Homo sapiens: one gene and its partners. The protein of the gene in region 1 interacts with the protein of each later gene in a biochemical or structural test. Each region holds a gene or a part of one and is shown on either strand. Other genes may lie near its edges.

Region 1 (7,173 bases):
GGTGTCCACGTTGGGGTGATAGCAGGGCGTGAGGAACTTCACTGTGGGCGCATTGTAAGGGTAGCCACTGGGGAACTCTAGCGAGAGCTTATACCTCAGGTCTTCATATACCTGGCATTTGGAGAAACAGTTGCAGAGTAAGCTCCAGCAGCAGCCTCATGTCCCAACCCAAGCCCCACACAAGGGGCTTGCTAGAATCTTGAGTTTCTCTGGGACCGGACAGTAGACAAACTGTTGAGCTGGTTCTGATGCTCCCCACTGCCTTTTTAAAAAGTTTTTTTAGTTTAGTTTTTATTTTAGAGACAGGGTTTCACCATGTTGCCCAGGCCAGTCTCAAACTCCTGGGCTCATGTGATCTGCCTGCCTCAGCCTCCCAAAGTGCTGAGATTACAGGTGTGAGCCACTATGCCTAGCCTGATGCTTTCCTCTTATCTGGTGGAGACATCAGTGACTCTTTGGTCTAAGGATTGTAAATTGGCATCCTGTGCTTTAGTTCAATTAGAATATTAGTTGCTGGCCGGGCGTGGTGGCTCACGCCTGTAATCCCAGCACTTTGGGAGGCCGAGGCGGGTGGATCTTGAGGTCAGGAGATCGAGACCATCCTGGCTAACAAGGTGAAACCCCGTCTCTACTAAAAATACAAAAAATTAGCCGGGCGTGGTGGCGGGCGCCTGTAGTCCCAGCTACTCGGAGGCTGAGGCAGGAGAATGGCGTGAACCCGGGAAGCGGAGCTTGCAGTGAGCCGAGATTGCGCCACTGCAGTCCGCAGTCTGGCCTGGGCGACAGAGCGAGACTCCGTCTCAAAAAAAAAAAAAAAAGAATATTAGTTGCTAATACGTAAAAATTAGATTTGGCACAGATTTGGACTTCTGACTCATCTTAAACCTGATCTGCAGCAATGGGAAGCTGCCTTCTTGAGATCTGGCCCTATTGGCCAAAGTCCTCACTTCATCCATTTCCTTGCTGTCTGTCCCCCCATGTAAACATCTAAGATAGGCAGCCCTGCTTTAAACCCACCCTTTATTGCACAGAGGGAAAGAACAAGGCCACATGGCTCAGAGAATGTAAACAGTCACAGGAGGAGTGTCTTGCTCCGCCAAAGGCTTGAAGCAGAGCTCGCACTTGGATCTCACTTCCCACCTTTCCCCAGACTCACTCACCCATCCCAGCCCTACACTTACTGTTCCAGCTGCTCCATGGATGGTCCCTACCCATTTGAAAAGGTTGTCTGATTCAGGGAAGGCAGAAATCCCTTTATCGCCAGACATCTGGGGAGAAAACACATTTGTTGGAATGTGGAGTACACTTTTGGGCATAGCAAAGGTCAGTGGGTGAGCTTTCCCCTTAATTTTATATATATATATATATATATATATATATGCTCACATACACACACACACATATATATGTATACACACACACATATATATGTGTATATATATGAGATATAGATGGGGTTATGCCATCTCTACTAAAAAATATATATTTACATATATATATATATAGAGAGAGAGAGAGAGAGATTGAGAGAGAGAGATAGACAGAGACAGACACACACACACACTCTGTCGCCCAGGCTAGAGTGCAGTGGTGCGCTCGGCTCACCGCAACCTCTGTCTCCACGGTTCAAATGATTCTTGTGCCTCAGCCTCCCGAGTAGCTGAAATTACAGGCATGCACCACCATGCCTGGATAATTTTTGTATTTTTAGTAGAGACAGGGTTTTGCAATGTTGGCCAGGCTGGTCTCGAACTCCTGACCTCAAGTGATCCGCCCACCTTAGCCCCCCAAAGTGTTGGGATTATAAGGTGTGAGCTACCGCGCCCAGCCTCCCCTTAATCTCATCACTCTGATCCAAAATAAAGCAACCAAATTCATAGGCTAGAAATACCAAGAAGGGCGGGGAGTTGGGTGTGGGTAAAGCTTGGTTGGGGCTAGGAAGTAGGGACACACTGGATAGGGAGGGTCTTGTATGACTTCAGGGAAGTGTTCGAGATAACTTCGTGTGGGGGGATGGAATTGGGAGGAGGGACTGCTGGAAGAAATGGTGTAGGTGGGGTGTATGAACTTCTTTCCCAGGAGGGAGCAAATTACATTACCCCTATGTCTAGCAAAAAAGCTGACGGAAAAAAGGAGGCTACTGAAAATTGGATGGAAGGCTGGGGTTCTGGGCACTTAATCACTCACCATGAGGGTCATCAGCTCCTGCTGTAGCCTGAAAAAAGAGTATTCGGGGTTACCTGGGAGTCTGGATGGGCCAGGCCTCCAGACGGTGCATCTTCTCCCACCTGAATCTCAGGGGGAGCCGTCATGGAGGCTCCCCACATCACCAAGGTCAGGCTCAGCTCAGGGTATACTCACCAGATCCACAGGACGATCCTAGCGAGTCCTCACCCTCCCTAATTCCAGACTCCCTCGGGATGATTCTGGCATGTTCTTAATTCCCCAGGCTTTAGCATCTCTTCCTTGCCCGACTCAACTTCTCCCTTCCCCTGTCTCGGCCAAGTCACGAGGGTCCTTGAGCGTCTTCATCTAGGCCCACCAGGGAAGGAGTCTGGCAGCGCCCCTACCCTCCCATTCTCCTTCGGGAGAGTCTCAAAGAGCGGTCTGAGCTCCTGGCCTGTCCCCCATCTCTCGAATCTCACCCGCGCAAGGAGGTGGGAGTCCCGGAAGTCTCCGCCCTCGACACCCATGCCCAGGGGAATGCCAGGCCCCGAGCTCCTGGTGTGTTCTCCTGCACCCGCAGATCTCCCGCTCCAGGAGGTGGCGGCGGGGGGTGGTCCTAGAAATCTTTGCTCTGGGTACCAATGCCTAGGGCATGGCAGGCCCGGCGAGTGGTAGGCCGCATCACTCACCTTTTGCCCACCGGACCCCGGGCGGCGCCCCCGCTCGGCTCAGCTCCTTTACGGGCGGCGGCGACGCTAGTGGCGGCTGGGTCGCGGTTTTGGGAAGCCATCCGGGCGGCGTTGGCAGAGAGACAGGAACTCGGAGAACACGACTGCAACTGCAGGACTGCGGGCCCGCCCGCCCGCGTTTGAATTGTAACCCTCTGGGGGCGTCGACCAATCAATGGCTCGCTTGGGTTTGATCCAGCCAATGAGACGCTCCGGAGCGCTCTATTGCTGCGCCACTGCTAGACCTACCCACTGGCGCACCGCTATTGGGCGGCAGAATCCCGCTTCTGACAACCGATTGGTAGATGATGCTGCCATTAACTAACGAATCCGTAGCGAATTGGTGGCCGTTGGAAAACGCTAACCATTAAAGGGCCAAGAAAACGTCCACGTGGGATGAACCCCTCCTTCTGGCTACACGTCTTACTCCGCGTGGGAACACTCGGCACGCCCAGCCTTGATCCAATTTCCCTCGGGCAGGGAGTGCCTCCAATCCTGCAGCACTGGTACCCTCCCACCATTATAATCGCCTGGGCACCTTTGCTGCGTCCTAAGTATCTGAAAATCCCAGCGAGGGGAAAAACTAAAGGCTGATGGCCAGAGCAGCAGGCTCCCTATTAGAAAACATAGGTCCATACATCTCCGCAGAGATGACAGAAATAAAAAAAGGCAACATTGGTTCAGGCTGGTCGCAGTGGCTCACGTCCGTAATCCCGAACACTTTGGAAGGCCCAGGCAGGAGGATCACTTGAACCCAGGAGTTCGAGACCAGCCTGAGCAACAGGATAGGGAGACCTGTCTCTACTTAAAAGAAAAAAAAAAAAAAAGAAAAGAAAAAAAAAAAAGGCTGGTGAGGTGGCACGAGCCTGTAGTCCCAGCTACTGGCGAGGCTGAGGCGGGAGAATCGCTTGAGCCAGAGGCTGCACTCTAGCCTGGGCAACAGAGCAAGACTGTCTTCAAACAAACAAAAACCCCAACAACACAGGTTCATATCCTGTATATCCTACCTCCCCAGTGGGTAGTGTGTAACCTTGGGGCGGGTCCTTTAGTATCTTAACCTGTAAAATGGGAGCAATAAAAGCCAACTCTATTTTTCATATGATCTGTCATCAAACTCCATCGCATTCTGCCATGTCCTTACATTAGCTGGGTAAGGAAACTACAAATGGGCAAAGGGAAGACGGGCAGGGTACATGGTGCTCCCAGGTTGGTCTTATCAAGCCTGGCTCTATACTGTTATGGGTGAGGGTTATCTCGTCCTTTTTTCCTACACCCACTTCTAGAGCCCTTGATGTTCTGTCAATTCCCACAAGGTAGAGGGCACAGCAGGTTCACCATCTGTGTTTACTACAAACTGTTTAATTGTTTCTTATCCCAATAACTTTACAAATATAGAACCACATGCTAGTCTGGGGGTGCTGTGCAGTGAGTCACTACAAACTCGCTCAGGCACAGCTTAATGCCGCTGAGATCCATCTAGGAGCAGTCCCAGCGGTGGCCTCAGCCACGTGAGGAAGAGGGCTTTGGAGGAGGGCTGCCAAGTGTGGCCAGGGGACCCGGCCTCAGGTCTGTGGAGGTGCTTCAACAGCACGATGCTCATTCTCTGTCCGTAGTGTCTCCATATACTTTCTCATCTTCTCCACCATCCAGGAGGGTAGGACAAAGGATTTCAATTCCTCTAGCTTCAGATCCAGGCATCCTCTGGAACAGACATTGAAGAGAGAAGTTGGGGGAAGTGAGGATGTAGGCCCTGCCTCATTCTAGGGGCTATTTGGAGGCAGGGAGAGGAGAAGGGGCAGGAGACCCACTGGTTTTACCTGTAATCATCACTGGCCGCAAGGTCCCGGATGTCCTCCTCGATGAGGAGGTAGGCCTGAGGCAGGAGCAAGGGAGAGTGGTCATTGCCTGATTCATTTCACTCCAACTCAGTAACACTTCATTAAACATCTGTTTAATGTAAGGCCTGCTACTAGGTGGAAGCGGGGGATGCGGTTTACAATTTAGTACGGAAGAGTAAGTGGGGAGGGATGGGAATGGTTCCTTGAGACAATCTTTTACTACAGTAGATGCTTCATGGATGGGAGAGTAGGGACTGGTGACTTATTTATAGCCTTCTCTTTTAAAAAAGGACCCATTTCTCTCTTGAATGGTGTGGTGAAAATTAAGAAAAAAAAAAAAAAAAGAAAAAAAGAAAAAAAAAGGGATCCACCATTGCTCCTACACCTTTTGGTTAAGATCAAGTATACGAAAGGACCCAAGGTGGGTTATAACAAAATGGCAAGAAAGCCAGCAAAATATATATGGAAACAGGAAATCAGGAAGAGGAAACCATGTGCTCCCTCTGAGGACAAAGATAACTTGGTTTTGAACTTTGTGGCAAAATGGAAAACATGATAAACTGCTCTGCTGTCTAGTAATTGGCCTGTATTGTACTGGGGCCTGTAGAAATGCTTTGTCACAATGCCTCGGTCTACAGTGGGTGAGGGCCCTTTTGTGAACTTAACATATAGGAAGAGATATTCATCATATTAGAAAGTCTTCTGTGGGAGACTTTCTAATGTTAGGGTCAGGAATAATTGTGTATTCCTTGAGTAATTTGTCTACATCTTATGGGCACTATGAACCATAACAGATCAGGTGTCCATGAGTGGGGCCTACAGCTGAATTTGCCAACATCTGTAGAAGTGCACAGGTCTCCCAGGTCAGCAATATAAAAAACACTTTTTTTTTTTAAAGAACTACTTTTACTGGTGGCTTAATTTTAGGTCCTGCCCCCACCCCCTACCATCTATTTCTTATTTATGTAATGTTGCATTTTATGTGCATGAAGCTTACCTGAAATCTTTTTTGAAGTAAAGCATAGGCATAAATAGAGTAGTAAAATAAAATAAAAGGTAGCTCTCACTGCCAGAAAGGAGATGGCATATCAGTTTGTAAGGCACTTAGATTCTAAAAGGAGCAGTACCTGTGGTGGGAGTGAGTGAGTCCTCAGGTGGGGGACATTGTGTGTGATGGACAAAGCCCTCAACAATAGTTTTTGAACACATGCAATGATGATTTTCCTAAGGTTGCTGTTTCATATGATCTGAGAACTCTTCAAGTAGAGGTAAATCTGGAAGGGGCTGCCAAGTGTGCAAACACATTTCATTGCTAACTCCTACTGACAAGGGTTGCTGCCTCAAGTACTGTGTTGAGAAAAGATTCTATAGCTGTGTCTGGTGGAAGAGTGATCAATGAGTGAAATCTGTCAGTGGGTGCAGTAGTGGGAAAAAGTAGTACTGTGTGTCTTATACCTGCTATTCCTATGGACAGCTAATAGTATCCAAATATGTGATCTTGGAGGCATGAGGTAAAAGTGTGAGGGGGCGGAAGGGAGACCTAGGGATAGGGAAGGGAACCTGAAGATTACAATTTGCTCTTCAGCATGAAGAAATAGGCCTTATAAGTCTCTCTTCTCACACATTGGTGAGGCTTTGGAAGTCAGATTTGGAGGTAGGCTGTCACCCACAGCCAAAATCCTGGTTCCCAGGTGGGGTGGGTCACTGGCAGTGGCACAAATGAATAATGCTTACCATCTTGCCCCCTGTTGCCCGCATGTGATGCTGCTCAGCCAGCCAGTGCTTATCCTGGGGGTCAGCTGCATACTGTAAGGAATGAAGTTGTAAGAAAATTAGCCTCGGGTAAGGGGCTTTTCTCATTTGGTCCCAGAGCATACTCTTGGCCCTTGAGCAGTTCTTACCAAAAGTCCTTGTCTCCAAGCGTGGTGGACTTAGAGGGCTCACTAATCTCTTCAGAGAAAGCTAAGCCAACCCCGAGGGCAGACCATGGGACCCAATTCCCAGAGACTTAGTATACTCCCAATCCCCACCCCCTTCTCACAACAAAGCACCCCGGGCAACTGGTGGGACTGATAACTATTATTTTAGAGCTTCCTCTTTTTAAAAAATGATCGGAGGTGGCTTATAACGTCTGTAATTATTATGGTGACCATAATAAAACAAAAATCGGGACACCTCATGTACTCTCGGACGCATAATAGCATCATGGTTAAGAATTCGGTTTTGGAGTTACAAATAAGGTTGGTTGGTTTATTGATTGATTGATTGATTGATCGATTGAGACGGAGTTTCACTCTTGTTGCCCAGGCTGGAGTGCAATGGCATGATCTTGCTTCATCACAACCTCCGCCTCCTGGGTTCAAGCGATTCTCCTGCCTCAGCCTCCCAAGTAGCTGGCACTACAGGCATGCGCCACCACGCCCGGCTAATTTTGTATTTTT
Region 2 (7,706 bases), on another chromosome or scaffold:
TGCAACCTCCACCTCCCTGGTTCAGGCGATTCTCCAGCCTCAGCCTCCCAAGTAGCTGGGATTACAGGCATGCACCACCACACCCAGCTAATTTTGTATTTTTAGTAGAGACGGGGTTTCGCCATGTTGGCCAGGCTGGTCTTGAACTCCTGACCTCAGGTGATCTGCCTGCCCCAGCCTCCCAAAGTGCTGGGATTACAGGCGTGAGCCACCGCGCCCAGCCGCCCCACTCTTAAATGGACGGATTATCACAGCTTCCACCAGCCACTTCATCAAATATACAACTAAGAGAGGATCCTCATGCCTTGCTCCGTGGCAAGGTTAAAAACAACAACAAAAAAACAAACAGAAAAAGGAATTACACTACAAAGTCAAAACTGCTGAATCCACGTTTCTCTGAAAACCAGAGTACAAGAAGGAAAGGAACAGCCCAGAGATGTTCTGGCTGTGGGAAGCCTGTGGACGGCACACAGGGCAGCCATCCCACCCCAACCTCCCCTCACCTGGAGGCACAGGCACAAGGGTCAACAGGTGGCTCCCGGGCAAAGGTGTCCTCCCACCTGGTGAGTTAGAGAGGAAGGTGTTAGGTGTGAGGCAGGAAAGAAGATAAGAAAGAAGACAGGCAGCTTCGGCCCTCCAGGAGCGGGGACCCCCCGCCACCCCCACAACCCATGCCAACTTCAGGTGTCCAACACCAGATGGGGCTGCTCCCTCCATCCCCAACTCAGGTTCTCCCACCCCCTCCCAGCTGGACAGACACCAAAATCCTGGCCCAGGCCTGGACTCCAACAGTGGGACGAATCAAACAGTTCCAGTTCTACACACATTTCTATTTTATTATGGAAAAGGTGGAAACGCCACCTTCTCCACAACAGCAACCAGTAAAATTTATCCCAAAAATAACTCGGTACAAAACAGGTCTGTTTCAGAATTAAAAAAAAAAAAAAAGAAAAAAAAAAAACCTTTACATGAGTTTTTAAATCCTATTTTAAAACATAAAAGAAACAAATCCATCATTGGCCGCACAGCCCCAGCCACCGCCCCCCAACCAGGGAGCAAGAGGAGACGCCTGGGTCCTGTTCCGCACGCGGATTTGCTGGTCTGTTTAACTGGTGTCCATCTGAAACACAGAGGAGAAAGAGGCTTGCATTCACAGGCGGCCTGCTCCCCACTGCGGCTTTGACCAGGCCCCCAGCTGGCTCCCCCGGGACTCACTCTCGCATTATAGGCGTCCAGCTGGGCATCCAGCTCCTCTGCCGAAAGCTGCTGCTTTGAATTCCTGCCGGCACCTCTGCCTCTTCCACGGGCGCCTCCGCGGGTGCCTCTCCGGGTGCCTCCACCACCACCAAAACCTCCAGCGCCACGGTTTCTAGTCATGCCACCTCTGTTTACGCTAGCAAGGAAGACGAAACCGTTCACACACCCGGAAGGACCCTAAGAGCGACGCAGCCTCACCCTCGGCCAATCCCCTTCCCCAGAGGCCCCGGAAGTCACCTCTGTGCAGGCCTCCGCTGTGCGTCAATCTGTGACGTGACAAGCTGAATGTTCATGGGGCGGCCTGCGGCAAAGAATACGAGAAGGCACGTTCTATTGAGAGGCTCTGAAACCCACCCAGCTGGCGCCACACCCTGGTCTCCATGCAAACACTGGAAAGGGCCTCTGTGCGTCTCAAATGCCCCCGACAAGGGAAATGGCCTGGAGATACTGGTGGGAGAACAAAATGGCAAGGAAGCAACCCCACCAACACCTCCTCACTCCTTCTCAGTCCAGACTAGGTGGGCTGCTCGCTGAGGTATCGGGGTGCTCGTGGGTGGAGAGGTGTGGGTGACCTGACGAAGAAGAACCGGTACCTTTGTCTTTACGACTACAGCCCCGCACTCAGAGGTGTACTATGGCGGTTCTGAGAAGGCTTCACAGAAGTGAATCTTCCGGAAGGAGCTGAAGGAGGGGAGGGATGTAGCTTGCTGGATGGGGGTTCACAAGAGGTTGGTCCAGATGTGTGGGGCAGCATGAGAGGTGGCAGATGGAAGAGAGAGACAAAGGGGCAAATGCAAAGTGTCCTCAGCCACAGGGGTACCCCATATTCCTACCTGGACAGGTGCCAGCCCCAAACTCCACAAGCCCCACAGTCAGCGTGGGTCCACCCCCAGACTCACCATCCAGAGGGACGCCGTTGTACTGCTTCATGGCCTTCAGGGCATCTGCCTTCCGCTCAAAGTGCACGTCTGCTGTTCCTAAGCTGCGACCAGAGCGATCATAGTGCACAGCCGCCTTCTTCAGCGTTCCAAATTCAGCAAAGAGTTCCTGGGAGTTGCAGAGAGCAGTTGTCAGAAAAGCAACAAAACTGCGTTCCTTCTGGTGGCCCAGGGACAGGCCCTGGAAGCGTGAGTTGCTTTGGGGGTGGTTCTCTGGGAGGCAGGACAGTGGTTAACGGGAAATGAGGGAAGGGCGGGGCAGGAGGGACAGCAACTTCCAAGAGCACCTGGGTCTGAGGGCTCCTGCCATTGTGGGGACCTGACACGTGTACCACGATGCAGGTAGAGGAAGCTGCAAAGCCCACTAGCAACGGGCACAAAATTAAGCCACTATCCTCTTCAACAAAGGAAAATGTACAACACACCCAAGGGCTGTTCCAAGAAACGGTAAAGGCCAAAATCAAGAGCAAGGGAAGCAGTCCGATATCAGACCAGCTTGAAGGGCCTGTAGATTCGGGAGCCCTGACCCCAGCCCCTCCCCCAAAGGCAGATTCTGGCTCACCTTTCCCTCTCCTCCTACTCAAGCCTGCGGCAAAGTCTGAAGTCAAGCGCTGTCATGGAAACTGCCCTGACCTCAGGCAGGCTGGGAGTTGGAGAGGGAACCCAGAGTGTGGGGATACTCCGGCCGCAGGCACACAGCGGGAACTGGAGTTCACCAAAAGCGGTTTCCAGTGGATGCTAGAAACCACCTTAAAAAAAGTGTTGAGACACTGTGAGTGCTCACTGGCCCTACTCTGTCCTCCCAAGGCAAATGGCTGGGCTGTGGGCAACTGAACCCTGCCCAGCCATCTCCAAAACTGATTCCCAAAAAGTCATTTCTTAACCAGAAAACAAGTTGAAATGCCATTGGGATTCAATTTTTCTTTTTTTAAAAAAGAAAAGCTTCAACCAAAGATGGATTTGAGAGTCATGTCACTGACGGGACACGGCGGTGGGGAGTGATAAAACCACAGCGTACAAGGTCTTTATAAGACAGTACTCAAGGCAAACAGAGCCAGAAAAACAGACTCCCTGTGCTTCACAAGATACATAAAGAAGATTCTTTTTCTCACATTAACCCACTAAGACAGGCACAAAATTTAAAAAGCAACTGGGCTGGGTCTAACAGCCAAAAACCACTCACATTTGGTCAGTCTTTGTCCCTGTTAGAAACTGGAAGCCCTGGCAGGGGATTTTCACTCACAGAACCCATCTTCAGACTAACAGCAGCAGTTCCTCAGGCTCAGCTAGGCTCGCACCTGCCTGCGCACTGACCCCGGCTTTACTAGCACTGGGTCTGTCCTGCAGCCCTTCAGAGCTGGGAGGGCTCCCTTCGCTAAGGCGGGAAGGGGACTCAGGGCCACATCCCCAAAATCACGATCCGTCCTGTGCAGGGCGAACGGCTCACCGAGAAGCCCTCGTCTCTTACCTGAATATCGGCGTCTGAGACTCCAAAATCCAGATTGGACACCAGCAGTTTCCCACCTGTCTCCACGCCGGCACCACCGCCGAAGCCACTGTCGAAAAGATCGTGCTGCCACTTGTCGGGAAGTTGTTTTGGCTGAAAAAAAAACCGCAACAAGAGCAGATCTGTGAGTCTCAGTCCAGGGCTTTCCTGACCCTCACGGCTACTCCGGACCCTTCCTCTTCCCGGCCTGAGAGGATCCGGCCGAAACGGGGCCGCCAGCGCTCCCTCCGGCGCTGCAGCTGCCCCAGCCCGAGGCCGCACGGTCCCACCGCGGCCGCACAACTTCAGTTCCCTTAGACTAACTTCCCGCCGCCTGTGCCGCGCCCAGCGTCCCCTCCTCTCCTGCCACGAGGCCCCAACGTCCGGAACAAACAAAGAGCTGGGAAGGGTCTCAGCCTCCGGGACCGGACCCCGAAAGAACGACCTCGCTCCCGCCCACCACCCCCTCCGCGCCCACACGCACCCTCCGGACCTCCGGGCGGCCGCTCCACCAGCCTTATCCACCCGCCGGCCCGGGTCTCCGCCGCGAGCGGCCCCGGCCCCAGCCCCGGCTGGCCCCCTCCCACTCTCCGGCGCGGCCGGCCTCCGCACTCACCCTGCTGTAGGGCGCCGGTCGGTTCCTGCCGCCTCCGCCGGCCGCGCCGCGGGCGATGGCCGGCCGGTTCCGGATGGGCCCGCCGCCTCGATTCACTCGCGCGGCGGCCTGCGCCCCACCGCCGCGGCCGCCCTGGGAGCCGGCCCGGCCGCGGCCCCGGCCCCCGCCCCGGCCGCCTCGCTGGCTCCGGTTCAGTTTAATGATGTCGTCCAGAGACATGTCCATTTTGTCGGCCATGGCGGGCGCGGAATCGGGCATCGGCTCGAGCCCGCGCGTCAGCACGCCGGCACGTCACTTCCGGCGCCGCGTGAGGCCTTCCGGTGCCACGGCCTCGGAGCGGCTGCTGATTGGCCGCTGGCGGACGGCTGCGCGCGCGGGACGGGGTGAGGCGGGGAGGCGCGTGCGCACTGGCGTGCGAGACTCGGCGGGCGCTGTTGAGGGAGTCGGGCCGCGACTGTGGTCGTTTTTATACCTTCCCGCGCGGACGCCGGCGCTGCCAACGGAAGGGCGGGTAGGGCGGTGCGTGATTAGGTTGGCGAAGGTGCGAGGGCGCAGGGGGTGGGGCGGCGGCCGTTGGAGGCGGAGCCTACGCGCCCCTCCCTCCCCGCACGCTCCGCCCGATCGGCCAGGGCTGGGGGCGCTGGGGGCGCTACGGGCGCGGCGGGTGCCTGGGAGCTGCTGGGAGTCCTTGTTTCCGCTCCCGCCCAGGACTGTGCGCTCGGCTCGCGGTGGGGTCCGGCGGGCGCGGCTTCGGCGGGCGGCAGCCGCTGCAGACGAGCTGCGGGTTGGTTTTTTGGTCTCCACCTGCAGCCCCCCCAAGTCTGCACTGTCACATTTTGCCAGTCATATCCTTTACAAGTTTTCTTGCGGGCCGGGCGCGGGCCTCACGCCTGTAATCCCAGCACTTTGGGAGGCCGAGGCAAGAGGTTCGCTTCAGCCCAGGAGTTTGAGACCAGCCGGGGCAACATCGTGAGACCCCCATCTCTAAAAAAAAAAATGAGCTGGGCATGGTGGTGCACTTCTGTACTACCAGCTACTTGGGAGGCCGAGGTGGGAGGATTGCTTGAGCCCAGGAGGTCGAGGCTGCAGTGAGCCGTGGTGGCACCACTGCACTCCAGCCTGGGCGACAGAGCCAGACCCTGTCTCCAAAAAAAAATTATTTTTGCAACTTATTAATGAAAACCAGTGTGCCATTTCATTGATTTTTTTTTTTTTTTTTTGAGGCAGTCTCATTCTGTCGCCCAGGCTGGAGTGCAGTGGGGCGATCTCGGCTCACTGCAACCTCTGCCTCCTGGGTTCAAGCGAGTCTCCAGCGGCAGCCTCCCGAGTAGCTGGGACTACAGGCACGTGCCACCATACCTGGCTAATGTTTGTATTTTTAATAGAGACAGGGTTTCGCCATGTTGGCCAGGGTGGTCTTGAACTCCTGACCTCAGATGATCCGCCCGCCTTGGCCTCCCAAAGTGCTGGGATTACAGGCATGAGCCACCACACCCAGCCCATTTCATGGATTTTAAGTTGTTTTGAGATACTTGCTTTTGTTTTTGTTTTTTGAGTCAGGGTCTCCCTCCGTCACCCAGAGTGGAGTGCAGTGGTGTGATCTTGGCTCACTGCAGCCTCAAACTCCTGGGCTCGAGCTATCCTCCCACGTCAGCCTCTCAGGCAGCTGGTGCACGCCACCACAGCTGGCTTTTTTTTTTTTTTTTGAGACAGTCCCACTATGTTGCCCAGGCTGGAGTGCAGTGGTGCGATCTCGGCTCACTGCAATCTCTGCCTCCCAGGTCCAAGTGATTCCTGTGGCTCAGCTTCCCGAATAGAGCTGGGAGCTGGCGTGATCTCAGCTCGCTGCAACCTCCGCCTCCCAGGTTCAAGTGATTCTCTTGCCTCACCCTCCCGAGTAGCTGGGATTACAGTTGCCCACCACCACACCCGGCTAATTTTTTGTATTTTTAGTAGAGACAGGGTTTCAGTATGTTGGCCAGGCTGGTCTTGAACTCCTGACCTTGTGATCTGCCTGCCTCAGCCTCCCAAAGTGCTGGGATTACAGGCGTGAGCCACTACGCCTGGCCTCTAATTTTTGTTTTTTTGGTAGAGATGGGGTTTCACCATGTTGGCCAGGTTGGTCTCGAACTCCTGACCTCAAGTGATCCACCCTCCTCGGCCTCCCAAAGTGCTGGGATTACAAGCATGAGCCACCACCTGCGGCTAATTTTTTTGTATTTTTTGTAGAGACGGAGTTTCGTCATGTTGGCCAGGCCCATTTGAGATCTTTGAAGATATCCTCAACGTGAGGTAAAACCAAACTCCTGACTGTCCTGTGCTCCCAAATGTGATCTCCTTGTCCGTAAGGAGCTGAGTCCCTTCCCTTGGAGAGAAGAGTGTGCCCTTTCTCTAGATGGCTAAAGAAACCTCACAGATAGTTCTTTTTTTTCCTTTTTTTTTTTTTTTTTTTTTGGTAGAGACTCAGTCTCACTGTGTTACACAGGCTGGTCTCAAACTCCTGAGCTCAGGCGATCCTCCCGAGTTGGCCTCCCAGAGTGCTGGGATCACAGGTGTGAGCCACAAAGCGGATTGCTGCTGGGGCTTGCTGTTCTCCCGTAGCTCCCCTGCAGCCCTGACCCTCTGGGCCCAGAGCCCTTTACTTGTTATTTGTTTTAATAGAAACGGGGCTCATAGCAGGGCATAGGGGTTCACGCCTGTAATCCCAGCACTTTGGGAGGCCGCAGTGGCAGATCGCTTGAGGCCAGGAGTTCAAGACCAGCCTGGCCTACATGGTGAAACCTCGACTACTAAAAATACAAAAATTAGTCGGGCGTGGAGTCACGTGCCTATAGCCTCAGCTACTCAGGAGGCCGAAGCACAAGAAATGAGCTGAGATCATGCCACTGCACTACAGCCTGGGTGACAGAGTGAGACTCTGTCTCAAAAAAAAAAAATTAATAAAAATAAAAGTAAAATAAAATAGAAACAGGGCTCACGATGTTTCCCAGGCTGGGTTCGGACTCCTGGGCCGGTATGATCTTCCTGCCTTGGCCCCCTGAGTAGCTGGGACTGCACTGTGGCAGGCTTATACCTGTGTTGGTGCCTAAACGTTCTAGCTCTGCAGACTCAATTTAGCCAGTCGTCCTGTTCCCTCCGCCGCAGGCTCTGCTGCCATGAAGGTGAAGATTAAGTGCTGGAACGGCGTGGCCACTTGGCTCTGGGTGGCCAACGATGAGAACTGTGGCATCTGCAGGATGGCATTTAACGGATGCTGCCCTGACTGTGAGTGTCCCCTCCATGCTGTCTGAGCGGCCCCGACTGTGAGTGTCCCCTCTGTGCTGTCTGCTGCCTGCTGGACTAGCCTCAGTAGCTCCTGTTAAATACCTGCACGAAATACCCAGTTTCATTTTCTTTTTTTTTTTTTTTT
Region 3 (6,784 bases), on another chromosome or scaffold:
GCCTCAAACTTCTAGGCTCAAGCAATCCTCCCGCCTCAGCCTTCAGAGTAGCTGAGACTAGTGTGTGCACCACCATGCCTGGCTCCATGGCAATAACTTAAAAAGCAGCAAAGTGCTGCTTTTTCGTATTTCTTTTTTTTTTTTTGAGACAGAGTTTCGCTCATTGCCCAGGCTGGAGTGCAGTGGTGCGATCTCGGCTCACTGCAATCTCTGCCTCGTGGGTTCAAGCGATTCTACTGCCTCAGCCTCCCGAGTAGCTGGGATTACAGGCACCTGCTACCACACCCGGCCAATTTTTGTTAGAGACAGGACTTCACCGTGTTGGCTAGGCTGGTCTCGAACACCTGACCTCAGGCAATCCACCCACCTTGGCCTCCCAAAGTGCTTGGATTACAGCGTGAGCCAACGTGCCCATCCATGTCCAAGCATTTCTATATTGAAATACAACTGAATTACAAGTTCTTTTTAGTTCTGTCATATAACAATTACATACATTTAAATTATATGTGTAGGAAATATATTTATGAATTTCACTTCATGACAGTAAAGGGGGACACAGTATTTTTATAAAAAAGGAAGCAATGGGACTGACAGAATTAAGATTTACTGATAGCGGTCAGCTGTAATAACACAATTTGCATAGAGGGAAAATTAAATAGCGAAAGATAACTTGTTTGTTTCTAATGCAACAGTAAAATAAAATCAGCACATTTAATCAAATGGAAAGAAAAACCTGTTTGATGCTTAACTTTTGTATTGGAACCCAAAATTGTCCCGGCATGTTCCCTCTGATGAGTATGTATTAAACTTTCAGATGGCTGTGCAGATGAGCTGTAATCATCGCAGGCTGAGCAGCATCAGCGCTGCTTTGTCACAGTGCCTCCTCTTCCCTCAGATGCTGGTGTGTGGCATAAACAGGGCTTTGTTAGGTGGCGGGACTGTGGTTTTGCTGTGTGGAAAATCAAATTGTTACCACCATCCTCCACATTTCATTTATATACTGTCACACTGCCTAAAGTAACCTGACATTCTACTGCTTTCCTCTTCAATGCAAAGCCATGTATCTGGTTCACATTTTAAGGATGCAACCTTCTAAAAAGGTCAAACAGAAAGTTACTAAAACAGTTCACTGCACAATGATAAACATTTAAATGGCCAAAGATATTTGTATAATTTTTTCAGTAGCTAGAAAGACAACTGTGAAAAAATATAAAGAAAAATTTCCAGAGAAATGTGATCAATAAAAAGTAACCCATATAAAAGCATACATAATTTTAATTTTTCATTCTAATTGTTATCTTTTTAAACATTCTATGTATCCACATCCCTTAGATTGAAAAATTCAGAATGGCACACTGCATCTGCAGATGTGAAAAGTTAAGATTCTAAGGTTTTTTCTTAAATTCATATCAGTAGCCTCTACTACAGAAGAATACAAAATGAACTTGTGGTCCATTATTTGTTACAAAATAACCTCCCCTCAGTGTGAATCAGTTTGATAAAGTTGTTTAGTATTTTCTTGCACTCTTTCCAGGTAATAAACCTTAAATTTTATTATTGTCAAATGAAAGAGCAAATGAATATGAATTCTTTCAAATTAAATGAAAGTATTTACTTGACAAATTAAGGTTGCATATAAAATTATAATGACAATTCAAATAAGGTAAGCAGAATAAACCATTTATTAAAACACTGTGTGATAAACTTTTTGATCCAATGCTACACTGGTAAACATTTTCCCTCATTAACATGTTACCTAAAACACAGTTAAATTATATCATCTGGGCCAGGTGCAGTGGCCCACACCTGTAATCCCAGCACTTTGGGAGGCTGAGGTGGGCGAATCACCTGAGGTCAGGAGTTTGAGACCAGCCTGGCCAACATGGGGAAATCCCGTCTCTACTAAAAATACAAAAATTAGCCGGGTGTGGTGGCACACACCTGTAATCCCAGCTACTCGGGAGGCTGAGGCAGGAGAATCACTTGAACCCGGGAGGCGGAGGTTGCAGTGAGTTGACATCATGCCACTGCACTCCAGCCTGGGTGGCAGAGCAAGACTTCACCCCCACAAAAAAAAAAAAAAAAAATTATATCATCTGACCAGAACTAGAAAATACTTCTGTCCTTTACCACTCAATGATTGAACAGTGAGGTGAGTGCAGATCTAGGTTTTCTTGATGAATCAATGATACAGAATAGTAACTTTAAAGGCAATCAAAATTCCATATGCTCAAAAGTTAAATTTTATTTACCCTGTTCACTGGCCCAAACTTAAAATCCTTATATCACATAAAGATTTCATGGACCGTTCCCTCTCCCTGCCAAAAATACGTATTAGGAACAAATTAAGAGTAAGAGTTGGGTTTTAAACTGCACTTTATTTGTTACTGTAACATTCTTTTTTAACTGATCAACCATAAGCATGCAAAAAGTTCTCTGAAACTGCTTCCACTGCCTGTTGTATAGAAATGGGTAAATTATAAAGGTGATTCAATTTGGAGCTCTTTCCTTTTTTATAGCACTTCTAAGCTGTGTGCGCGACACACACCACAGAGGTAGGAAGGACCACCTTTAATAAATTATCTTCTTAATCGCAGAGAATTTCTGAAGATAAAACTGACAAAATGCTAAACCAAGGCTTTGATGAGTCCCAAAGGACCACAGATCCATCGGCTCCTATTTGAAGAATTCATCCCCTGTAGTGTTCTAGCCTTTGTAGGGCACTGGATTACAAGATCCACCAGGGCTCTGAACAACTGCGCTAAGAAGCCTTCTAACCACTCTCATTTGCCGATTCTTTGGACCACCCAGTCCTGCTGGCAGAGAGGGCAGCGATTGTTCTGTTTCACCCACAGGGACATGCAGCAGTTGTGGAAGGAATGATTACATTCTCCCCAGACCACTGAAAGAAAGAAAAAGAAGAGTTGACATTACATATTTCAATTTAAACACTGAACTCAAAATTATAGCTTATTTTATATTACAAATAATAATCTTGAAAAAAGATAGTTAATTGGCCAAAATAATGTTTTTCTATCTATAAAGAAACAGAAACTTAAATGTGTAAGTTACACAGAGACATAAGTCACTGTTTGAGAGCCTTTCCATCACTGTTCTAGAATCTATGGGTGATGTGATGACCCCTAGTTCCTACACAGCTCCACATGCTGTCTTCTTGAAGTTAGATGAATGTTCTTGAACCTTCCTTAGATCTGACCTTCTCAGTCATGCACTGACCTTAGAGATCTTCTGGGCTTTATTTTATGGGAAAATGTCCTTCCAATTTTTATTTACCAAGACAGAATGAGTTGTAAATGTTTTTAGTATGCAGTAGGCTATTATAAATAACATGCTTCTAAACATTCAGTTGTGCATCTGAGCTGAGCTGTTTTCTAGAAGTGATGAATTGTGTTAAGTCACCCATAAGCAGTGCAATTCCTCATGTGACGATGAAATTTTCAAAGTGGCTGGCTGGAGAGAGAGGTCTCTCTGTGATCAAAGAAAGTGGCCTGCCCCTCACAATTCCCAAATTAATACTTTTTAAACAAGCAGCATGAAAGAAAAACTTTAAAACAAGGGAAATCATCCACAATCTAGAATGCAATCTCGAATTTGGGATTCATCTGTCCCTTGCTTGATCAACTGAGCTATATGACAAGAGAAAAAGATTAAATGAAAGAAATAAGGCAGAGAAAAAGATTAAATGAAAGAAATAAGGCAGAAAAAAAGAAAAAAATGCCTATGAAAATTGGCTACAGGGGGTAGGAAGCAAGGGTGAAACATTCTAAGCGTTTCAGGAGGAAGAACTGGATCAAAACTGCAAGAATCAATATTAAGAAGTTCTATGTACACCATGTATTTGTGTTCTACGTACACCATGCAAACACAAAATACAAAGCCAATCTTTTATTCTAAGAAAATCTATAAACATGTTTATATAGCAATCTAGACTTGATCACCTCAAGAACTAGGGCATAAAAATCTTTGAACTGCCTAAAATATTTAGCCTACGACAACTTTTGTAGTCTAAGACTCTAAAGAAAATTTGATACACAAACCACATTCCAAAAATATACTTGAGACTTAGAATTTTTCTACTCTGGTTTTAAAGTTAAATACTGTATTATAAGAGTATTGAAAAGTGAAATGCCTTATTAGAACCAAAAGTGACCTATAACATAGCCAAAATTCAAATAATGTTTTGACAAATTTCTGATTTTATAATTTTCTTAATAGAAAATATTTAATTTTTGATTACCAAAATGTTTATTATGACCATGTCTGGAATATATAACCAATTCTTCTTAATTATGGCAATAAAAGGACTTGCAGGTTCATTCCATTAAACTCTTTTGAGAACCAACATATTTTATATTAACAATGGATCACTGCTTTACAGTTTATTTTTGTGTATTGATAAAGTCAATCTTAATTTCAAATTCAAACATCCCTACTGAGAGAAAACCTTCAGTTGAAAAAGCAAGAGAACAAAATTACAACATACCAACACAGTCCTCTTGTTTGTTTTCAGCTTGACATCTAAGACAGGCATCTAAAAGTAAACAAATAGCGATTCTCATTCTGATGCTCAGAATGCAATTTTTAAAAACCAGACACTTCAAAGTCAAAAGCCCTAAGGGTTAGGGATGGCAATAAAGACTCATACTATTAATTTCTCATCTGAACATAACTACTTAAAGAGGAATAAAGTACAAGGCATTCTACTAATTATAACCAGGAGCAATTTCACAAGGGTTAACAAATCCTCTATTTTTATAAGCTCTGATGAAAAGATGTCCTGACGGTGCCAAGAGAGAAAACTACTAGAGAAAAATATGCCATACTCCACTATATTCAAAGTTACCATACGCTTACTGGGCATGCTCATGGACAGTTTATTTTCAAGACACCCTTTAAATAAACCATATATATATGTTAGCATTTGTTTATACATACATCAAGAAACACTAGGATACCCAAGGAACCAATAATAAAGTTTACTGGGAGGGTTTGGAATGGGAAGGAGAGTTTTCACTCTTCCAGGTAATATACATAACTTCCTCAATTTCTGAACTATATGAATATATAACTTATAAAAAATTAAATTAAAAAATTGCTTCATAAACAAGTTTTTTAAAGTCATCCATACTTACTGACACAGAAGCCTTCCTTTAGCAACTCATAAGAAGCAACTTTTTACTTTCTACCCTAAGACACTTGAGAGTTCCTCTAAAATAAACTGCTTTGTATGCTTCCAATAGGTTGCTACCGATGGTCATCCAGACAAGGCTGGTGAGAAGCCAGTGAGACAGAGGGGACAGCGAGGGCTGTGGAGCCAGATCTACAGTCAAATCCCATTTCACTGGCATTTATTAGGTTCAGGGCCTCGGACCAATTACGAACTCCAATTCCCTCATCTGTAAAAAAGGGACAATACTGTGAGGTATTTATATATTAAGTGGGGATGATACAAACTGGTGAGAATTTTACAGATAAAATAAGTAAATACTAGATATCCCTAAACACTAAGGTTTTTTCTTTGTAAGAAAATGCTCGCCTGTAATCCCAGCACTTTGGGAGGCTGAGGCGGGCGGATCACGAGGTCAGGAGATGGAGACCATCCTGGCTAACATGGTGAAACCCCGTCTCTACTAAAAATACAAAAAATTAGCCGGGCGTGGTGGTGGGCGCCTGTAGTCCCAGCTACTCGGGAGGCTGAGGCAGGAGAATGGCGTGAACCCAGGAGGCAGAGCTTGCAGTGAGCCGAGATAGCGCCACTGCACTCCAGCCTGGGCGAAAGAGCGAGACTCCGTCTCAAAAAAAAAAAAAAAAAAAAAGAAAATGCTTGAGAGCTAAATGATGAGAACACATGGCCACATAGCAGGGAACAACACACACTGGGGCCTTTTGGAGGGTGGAAGGTGGAGAGGATCAGGAAAAATAACTAATGGGTACTAGGCTCAATACCTGGGTGATGAAATAATCTGTGCAACAAACCCTTGTGACACAAGTTTATCTATGTAACAACCCTGTACTTGTAGCCCTGAACCTAAAAGTTTTTTTAAAAAAAAAAAGAAAGAAAGAAAATACAGATAAGTCTGAGCCCAAAGTATTTACCCAACAATGGTAAAGTCTTTTAATAAATTACTTTATTACTGGTTTCTTGGGTATCCTTCTAGAATTTCTTGATGTATATATAAACAAATACTAACATTATATGTATGGGTTATTTAAAAGGGTGCCTTGAAAATAAACTGCCCATGAGCATGCCCAGTGAGCTTATAGTAACTTCTAATATAGTGGAGTAGGTGTAAATACTAAAAATGAGATCCTAAAGGCTGTACTAGAAGTTTTCAAAATTCAATCTGGAATACTATCAGCTTAATGAAAAAAGTAATATAGAATATTTTAGGGAGCAAAAATGGACTCATTCACTAGCTGGAAGAGGAGTCAGAGTTGGGTAAAAGGAAGTTTGAACCAACAGAAAATAGTTTTTAACATAAATAGGAGAAAAATAATTCTGTAAAAATAGAAACACGGTTAAGTTGAAGCCTGCTTCTCTTCTTACACTGGATTCTGCTCAGGCATTTGTTTGCTCCTTTCCACATGCTCTTACCCTTAAAAAAACACCACTGCCCTAGTCTCTTCAGTGTGGATTAAAAACAACCACTGCCTCCTGAGGTTTTCTTCAATCCCACAATTACTATCTCCTCTGTGCAAGGAGTTATGCACTGGGGACACCAAAATGACCAAGGCTGGGTCTCAAGGGGCTCAGGAGCAAATG
Region 4 (7,021 bases), on another chromosome or scaffold:
ACAAACTGACCAATGACAAGGCAAGGAGATAACTAAGTAATAGAGGCCACTACACGTGCCCAGGGAGGAACTCACATCCTCAGGTCAGTGAGTTCTGACCACAGACCTTGGCTTCTTTAACCCTGCCAGCAGCCCCTTGAAGACAGTTTCATTTGTCCCAGCTTTTGGAGAAAATGAGGCTCAGAGGAAATGAGATCTCTACCCCAGGTCAGTCAGAGAGTCAGTAAATGGAAAATATGGTTCACCTTTGTCTCTACTAACTCACCAAGCCTCTTGCTACCCAGGTTGGCTCTTAGCATTCTAAGCAATTCACCTGGCTATCTCAGGGGCTCCAGCCAGCCTGCTGCCTCCCCTCATCTCCCATTCCTTAGCCCTGTGGACTGGGCCCTGAGCCCAGGGGCATTTGGCAAACAGTCCCCCACCAGCTGCATGCCTCTGGGCGAGTGAATGGGGTTCTCTAAGCCTTTCTTTTCCCATTTGTGATTTGGGCATAGGGTTATCTGGGTCATGGGGATTGTTAAGATTAGACAAAGCCCTTTCCTCTTTGATTGACACACAGTATGCTCTTGGTAGATAGTAGGGAGCTCTTGTCATTGTGGTTGGTGCTAGTGACAAGTGCCAAGATGGAATCTTAGGTACATTGGGATACTTAGTGTCATAAAAGTCTCAGTGTGGGAGGACTTGTGTGAACAGAAGACTCAGTGCCTAGAGGAGCACTTGGGGTGAGGGGAAGTGACGCTGGGTCCTCCCATCTCCAGCATGTGGACCCAGTCACCCCCACCACCAGATTTCACTTCCACAGCAGGCTTTATTGTTCTGTCTCTGGGACCTAGCAGGTGACCCTGGGCAAGTTACTTCTCATTTGTCCGGCAAGGACACTAAACTCTGCCTTGCTGGGTCAGGGTCATGGAGGGGATGAAACGTGATAACACGAGGAAGCAGCCTGGGCTTCAGAGTCAGCAGATCCTGGTCTGGTCCCAGCTCAGTGTGTGGGAACCTTGGTCACCGAACGTCCCTGAGTGAATTTTTTTCCATCACTTTAAAGTTGGGGGTATTATTGATAGCAGTCCAAACCCCACAGGAGTACCCTGAGGACAGAGTGAGACGAGGTTTAGAGAAGTGCTTACTATGGCATCTGGCACAAGGAGGACTCCTGATCAATCTAATACTCATTTATCATTGTGGTTAACCTGTTTAAGGGACTCCGCATGCAGATGAGGCTTGGGATGTGTTTGTTTTCTATCTTTTTGCAACCTCTTTTATTGGTCTGTGTCGGTTTTCCCCTCCCAAAGCTGGGGGCAGGGTTGGGCTTTATAAAACTTGAGCCCCTCTGGGGACTGGGTTCTCAGCAAGTTACCGCTCCTGCCATCATGCCACCCTGATGGATGTCCAAGCCTCACTTCCCTCCTGCACTCCCCGCTCCCGCCGCCATCCCTGGGATTAAGGGAGAGGAGAATGGCTGCTTGTTACTGCCTACCTACTCTGTGCCAGGTTCTATGCTCTGTGTTATTTATCATCTCGATAACCCCGTGGGGAAGGTAAGTGGTATTATCACCCCTGTTTCACAGGTGAGAAAACTGAGGCCTGTGGCGGTTAATTATTACTGTTAGTGCGTGGCAGGCTCAAGATTTGAAACCAGGTCTGTCCTGAATCCACATCCTTCCCCTGACCTCGACACAAGTACATTCTTGTCATTCCTTTCACTCCAGGATTGGAGTCTCTCCCTCATTATGCTGGGCTGGGAAGAAGCAAATGGCTTAGTGGTCAGCAGTGTGGATTTGCAAATCAGACCACCTGGGTTCAGATCTTAGGTCTGACAGCTGTGTTACCCTGGGCAAGTCCTCACCTTTCTGTGCCTGTCCCCTCTTTGCTGTAAAATGGGGGTACTAATACTTAAGTCTTCCCTTCCCCCACAGTTGCTACTAACAAACAGAAAAACGGTACCCATGTGCTCCAGGGTCACCTCTGACCTTTTTTTCCTCCAGATGTCCAGCTCGCCGCTGTCCAAGAAACGTCGCGTGTCCGGGCCTGATCCAAAGCCGGGTTCTAACTGCTCCCCTGCCCAGTCCGTGTTGTCCGAAGTGCCCTCGGTGCCAACCAACGTGAGTGTCCTCTCCGTGGAGACTGGCAGACGAGGTGGTGGGTGGGAAAGTCTTTTGTATCACTGTCTGTCTATCCATGCTCCACTCCTGTGTGTCTCCCTAAACTTGTTCTTTTCCTCTATTCCTAGGGAATGGCCAAGAACGGCAGTGAAGCAGACATAGACGAGGGCCTTTACTCCCGGCAGCTGTAAGTGGGGCCAAGGCCGGGCTGAGGGGTGTGGAATGGGACATTGAGAGGATAAGGTTGGGTGGGGCAGGCCCTGACCTAGAGTACCCCCTAACCTGGCAGGTATGTGTTGGGCCATGAGGCAATGAAGCGGCTCCAGACATCCAGTGTCCTGGTATCAGGCCTGCGGGGCCTGGGCGTGGAGATCGCTAAGAACATCATCCTTGGTGGGGTCAAGGCTGTTACCCTACATGACCAGGGCACTGCCCAGTGGGCTGATCTTTCCTCCCAGGTACCTCTTCCTAGCACCCTTCCCCCTTTCCCCCTTCCCGAGGCACCACTGTTCCCGGTGCCACAGCCATTTCATCTTTTTCCCTACTGCACACCCTTACAGTTCTACCTGCGGGAGGAGGACATCGGTAAAAACCGGGCCGAGGTATCACAGCCCCGCCTCGCTGAGCTCAACAGCTATGTGCCTGTCACTGCCTACACTGGACCCCTCGTTGAGGACTTCCTTAGTGGTTTCCAGGTATCTTGGGGGTACTACCCAGCCTTCTGCCCAGTTTTCTCAGAGCCCATCTCTGGTTTATTCAGTAGTGTTCAATATTGATTTAATGGGTCGGCCTGAATGTCAGGTTTTGTGCTGGGGGACTAGAGTATGCAGGCAGCAGTTAGCCCCTGGCCCTGCCTTTTCTTTTCTTCTTTTTTTTTTTTTGAGACGGAGTCTTGCTCTGTCGCCCAAGCTAGAGTGCAGTGGCGCGATCTCGGCTCACTGCAAGCTACACCTCCTGGGTTCACGCCATTCTCCTGCCTCAGCCTCCCGAGTAGCTGGGACTACAGGCGCCTGCCACCACGCCCGGCTAATTTTTTTTTGTATTTTTAGTAGAGACGGGGTTTCACTGTGTTAGCCAGGGTGGTCTCGATCTCCTGACCTTGTGATCCGCCCGCCTCCGCCTCCCAAAGTGCTGGGATTACAGGTGTGAGCCACCGCACCCGGCCTGGCCCCGCCTTTTCAAGTGGGGAAGATGTGTACAGACAGTACAGCATAGTGGTTGTGGGCACAGACTGTAGAGCCATACTGCCTTGCTGCAGGCCTCCAGCCTTGGTAGTGTGACTTCAAGCAGGTTGTTTCATCTCCTGTACCTTTGTTTTCCTGTTTGTAGTCAGTGCGTGGTAGCAGCACTGACTTCATGGACTTTTTGTGAGGGTTAAACACGTGGAATTGCAGCTGGCATATAAGGACTGGATGGGTGTTTGTTAATTAAAAAGTCCAGGCCGGAAAGAGGTGCTCTGGAAGCTGAGAGTTGTCCCTGGAGTATCCCAGGTTGCCAGGGCACTGCAGCTAAATCCTGATGGAGGAGTAGGAGCTCACCCTGGTGGGGAAGGATGGACATTCAGGCAGAGAGCAAAATCCCAAAGATCATGGCGGAGCAGGCGTCGTCTTGAGAATTGGAAGCAGGTGGGTGTGGTAGGAGTGAGCTCAGACTTTGGCTGGAGACAGAGTTTTACTCCAGTGTCTCACAGGGCATGGCAGACAGACAGCAGCGGGTGTTTGTCAAATAAATGAGTCAGCTCTTCTCCAAACTCCCTCCTCCCAGCTACCTCTTCACCTTTCCTGGTATAGTCCAGGGGTTCATTTTCGACCCCCACAGAGTCTGATACACAGTAGGTGCTATGTGTTTGTGAAAGAGGCTGACCCAGCAAAGCCTGGATGTGTTTGCCTTGAGGACTGCCTGAGTCCTCCACACCAGCCCTCCATTTTTTCCCCTTCACCCCAATGCTGGGCCTGAGCCTCCATCTCTCCACAGGTGGTGGTGCTCACCAACACCCCCCTGGAGGACCAGCTGCGAGTGGGTGAGTTCTGTCACAACCGTGGCATCAAGCTGGTGGTGGCAGACACGCGGGGCCTGTTTGGGTGAGTGGCAGCCCACCTCCCTCCCTGTCCCCTTTTCCCCCAACTCCTACCAAGCCCAGGCCAAGACTCTAGGCTCTCCCTGCCCTCATCCCTTCTCAGCTACCCAGGTTTTGGGTTCTGTGTTTTCATCTCTCCCCATGTGGCACAAGTACCATCTTACATCCCAGCAGTGATAGGCTGAGTTTGCTCAGCAAGTTTTCACTACATCTTGAGGGACCCGTGGGACCTGTATGTGCATGGGACACAGGCACCAGCCCTATTGCTTCCCTCTACAGGCAGCTCTTCTGTGACTTTGGAGAGGAAATGATCCTCACAGATTCCAATGGGGAGCAGCCACTCAGTGCTATGGTTTCTATGGTTACCAAGGTAAGGAGACCAGCCCTAGGGTTCCTGGCAGGCAGGTGGGCTGCAGTAGTCCTTCCTGTCTGCTCTTGGTACCCTGGGCCTGTTTCTGAGACTCACTCTTCCTTTAACCAGGACAACCCCGGTGTGGTTACCTGCCTGGATGAGGCCCGACACGGGTTTGAGAGCGGGGACTTTGTCTCCTTTTCAGAAGTACAGGGCATGGTTGAACTCAACGGAAATCAGCCCATGGAGATCAAAGTCCTGGGTGAGCTGCGACCATGGGGGAAGCAGAGGGGAACTAGAAGATATGTTCCTGGGTTCTGGCCGGGGAGTTGAAGGGAGAAGACATGGCCCTTGGTTCAGAGTTGGGAAGACACATCCTGGTGTTTGAGATGAACTACAGACAATCCTGTGGGGTCCAATAAGAGCTGGTGGGCATGGGGGAGAGGTACTGTGTTTGAGCTATTCCTGGGAGAATGTGTCCCTGGTATCTGAGCTGAGTGGGGAAAAAGTCTCTGGTGTTTGAACAGGGCAGATCAGCGGATCTACTTGTGTGTGAGCTGATTTGGATGGGAAGCAGAGAAGGTCTTCCCGTGTAGACTTGGAGCCAGGGACACAGGGTCTCACGGGGTCTGAGCTGAGTCTGGGGCACAGGAGAGATGGTTTCTGATGTCCAAGTGGAGCCTGGAGCTGAGGGAAGACAGCTTCTGATGTCTGAGCTGAGTCGGGGCAGGAGGTTCCTTATCTTGCAGGGGTTGTGGATTTTAGGGAGAATGGGTAGACTGACAGCTCTCTTCCTGCCCTCTGTAGGTCCTTATACCTTTAGCATCTGTGACACCTCCAACTTCTCCGACTACATCCGTGGAGGCATCGTCAGTCAGGTCAAAGTACCTAAGAAGATTAGCTTTGTGAGTGTGTCGATGGGATCAGTGGGCTGTGGGGGGTGGTTCTAGGCATTCCCTAGTTCTCCATTCCTCTCTTCTGGTTCTGATGACCTCTCCCCCCGCCACAGAAATCCTTGGTGGCCTCACTGGCAGAACCTGACTTTGTGGTGACGGACTTCGCCAAGTTTTCTCGCCCTGCCCAGCTGCACATTGGCTTCCAGGCCCTGCACCAGTTCTGTGCTCAGCATGGCCGGCCACCTCGGCCCCGCAATGAGGTGGGTGAGTGGGCGAGCCAGCCAGCGCAGACATGCCTGGCACTGCAGGCTCACCATGCCTCTCTGCGTGTCCACACTCCCTGCCCTCACTGTGGCCTGACATATCCTCTCTTGGTTCTTTCTGGCCCACCAGGAGGATGCAGCAGAACTGGTAGCCTTAGCACAGGCTGTGAATGCTCGAGCCCTGCCAGCAGTGCAGCAAAATAACCTGGACGAGGACCTCATCCGGAAGCTGGCATATGTGGCTGCTGGGGATCTGGCACCCATAAACGCCTTCATTGGGGGCCTGGCTGCCCAGGAAGTCATGAAGGTCAGCACGGGTGGGGAGAGGCAGGATTGGGGTGGGCCAGGTTCCTCCATGACTCTGTCACTTGCTCTCTGTCTGTGTCAGGCCCCTGTTAACCACTGACCACCCCCTCTCTCCCTTCCCCTCTCCAGGCCTGCTCCGGGAAGTTCATGCCCATCATGCAGTGGCTATACTTTGATGCCCTTGAGTGTCTCCCTGAGGACAAAGAGGTCCTCACAGAGGACAAGTGCCTCCAGGTATGTGGGTGGGACCTGTGGGGAGGGCATCATTGGGGACATTTCTGGGGAGGCCTCTCTAACCCTCCTCCCTTTGCATTCCTTAGCGCCAGAACCGTTATGACGGGCAAGTGGCTGTGTTTGGCTCAGACCTGCAAGAGAAGCTGGGCAAGCAGAAGTATTTCCTGGTAAGTGGTCCCCTTGGATGTCTGCTCCCCTCATCTTGGCCTCTGGCCATCACCCCTGGGGCTTCCTTCGGCATCTCAATGCAACCGGTGGCGCATTCTCTTTGCCATTCTCCTTATCTTGAAGGGAAGCCCAGTGCATCCCTCGTTTCCCCTTCTGGTGCCTCCTTCCTCACATGACTGCGTGTCATTTCTTAGAGTCCTGCAACCTGAAGATGTGGTGTTAGCCCCTCTCCCCGTCTCTCAGGGGAGTGAGGGGTGATGGGTAGCTTCACACTAACCTGCATCACCCTGACCAGCCTCTGCCTGTCTTCTTGGTTGCTTCTTAGGTGGGTGCGGGGGCCATTGGCTGTGAGCTGCTCAAGAACTTTGCCATGATTGGGCTGGGCTGCGGGGAGGGTGGAGAAATCATCGTTACAGACATGGACACCATTGAGAAGTCAAATCTGAATCGACAGTTTCTTTTCCGGCCCTGGGATGTCACGGTGAGTAGGGTAGGAGGTTGGGGCTTTGTCGTCTCACTTTCCTCCTTTTTCTTTTTTTTTTTTTTTTTGAGACGGAGTTTCGCTCTTGTTGCCCAGGCTGTAGTGCAGTGGCGTGATCTCTGGCCCACCACAACCTCTGCCT

The links.
Region 2: the proteins of UBE2C (region 1) and ANAPC11 form a complex in vitro, tested with the Homo sapiens proteins (66 studies listed by BioGRID).
Region 3: the proteins of UBE2C (region 1) and RNF7 form a complex in vitro, tested with the Homo sapiens proteins (4 studies listed by BioGRID).
Region 4: of the proteins of UBE2C (region 1) and UBA1, one has a biochemical effect on the other in vitro, tested with the Homo sapiens proteins (5 studies listed by BioGRID, with this or other methods).

Annotation. Positions count from the first base shown.
Region 1 is NC_000020.11:45,808,479-45,815,651, reverse strand, and holds the start of UBE2C (ubiquitin-conjugating enzyme E2 C), read right to left. Parts: upstream 3,009-7,173; 5' UTR 2,957-3,008; coding exon 2,856-2,956; intron 2,658-2,855; exon of another isoform or gene 2,362-2,657; intron 2,216-2,361; coding exon 2,188-2,215; intron 1,269-2,187; coding exon 1,182-1,268; intron 263-1,181; coding exon of another isoform or gene 112-262; coding exon 1-111. Other genes in the region: DNTTIP1 (deoxynucleotidyltransferase terminal-interacting protein 1), read right to left, coding at 4,457-4,595, 4,712-4,767, 6,467-6,538. UniProt on the Homo sapiens protein: Accepts ubiquitin from the E1 complex and catalyzes its covalent attachment to other proteins. In vitro catalyzes 'Lys-11'- and 'Lys-48'-linked polyubiquitination.
Region 2 is NC_000017.11:81,887,026-81,894,731, forward strand, and holds the start of ANAPC11 (anaphase-promoting complex subunit 11), read left to right. Parts: upstream 1-4,697; 5' UTR 4,698-4,816; exon of another isoform or gene 4,817-4,838; intron 4,839-4,901; exon of another isoform or gene 4,902-5,081; intron 5,082-6,078; exon of another isoform or gene 6,079-6,162; intron 6,163-6,526; 5' UTR 6,527-6,589; intron 6,590-7,441; 5' UTR 7,442-7,452; coding exon 7,453-7,561; intron 7,562-7,706. Other genes in the region: ALYREF (THO complex subunit 4), read right to left, coding at 1,106-1,120, 1,216-1,393, 1,495-1,558, 2,157-2,304, 3,664-3,795, 4,298-4,555. UniProt on the Homo sapiens protein: Together with the cullin protein ANAPC2, constitutes the catalytic component of the anaphase promoting complex/cyclosome (APC/C), a cell cycle-regulated E3 ubiquitin ligase that controls progression through mitosis and the G1 phase of the cell cycle.
Region 3 is NC_000003.12:141,741,277-141,748,060, reverse strand, and holds the end of RNF7 (RING-box protein 2), read right to left. Parts: intron 5,418-6,784; exon of another isoform or gene 5,154-5,417; intron 4,553-5,153; coding exon 4,505-4,552; exon of another isoform or gene 4,504-4,504; intron 2,903-4,503; coding exon 2,784-2,902; 3' UTR 501-2,783; downstream 1-500. UniProt on the Homo sapiens protein: Catalytic component of multiple cullin-5-RING E3 ubiquitin-protein ligase complexes (ECS complexes), which mediate the ubiquitination and subsequent proteasomal degradation of target proteins.
Region 4 is NC_000023.11:47,196,818-47,203,838, forward strand, and holds part of UBA1 (ubiquitin-like modifier-activating enzyme 1), read left to right. Parts: exon of another isoform or gene 1-173; coding exon of another isoform or gene 174-207; exon of another isoform or gene 208-1,385; coding exon of another isoform or gene 1,386-1,538; intron 1,539-1,573; exon of another isoform or gene 1,574-1,639; intron 1,640-1,985; coding exon 1,986-2,102; intron 2,103-2,230; coding exon 2,231-2,289; intron 2,290-2,391; coding exon 2,392-2,560; intron 2,561-2,662; coding exon 2,663-2,797; intron 2,798-4,076; coding exon 4,077-4,183; intron 4,184-4,458; coding exon 4,459-4,549; intron 4,550-4,660; coding exon 4,661-4,793; intron 4,794-5,338; coding exon 5,339-5,436; intron 5,437-5,540; coding exon 5,541-5,687; intron 5,688-5,820; coding exon 5,821-5,997; intron 5,998-6,125; coding exon 6,126-6,230; intron 6,231-6,316; coding exon 6,317-6,397; intron 6,398-6,723; coding exon 6,724-6,879; intron 6,880-7,021. UniProt on the Homo sapiens protein: Catalyzes the first step in ubiquitin conjugation to mark cellular proteins for degradation through the ubiquitin-proteasome system.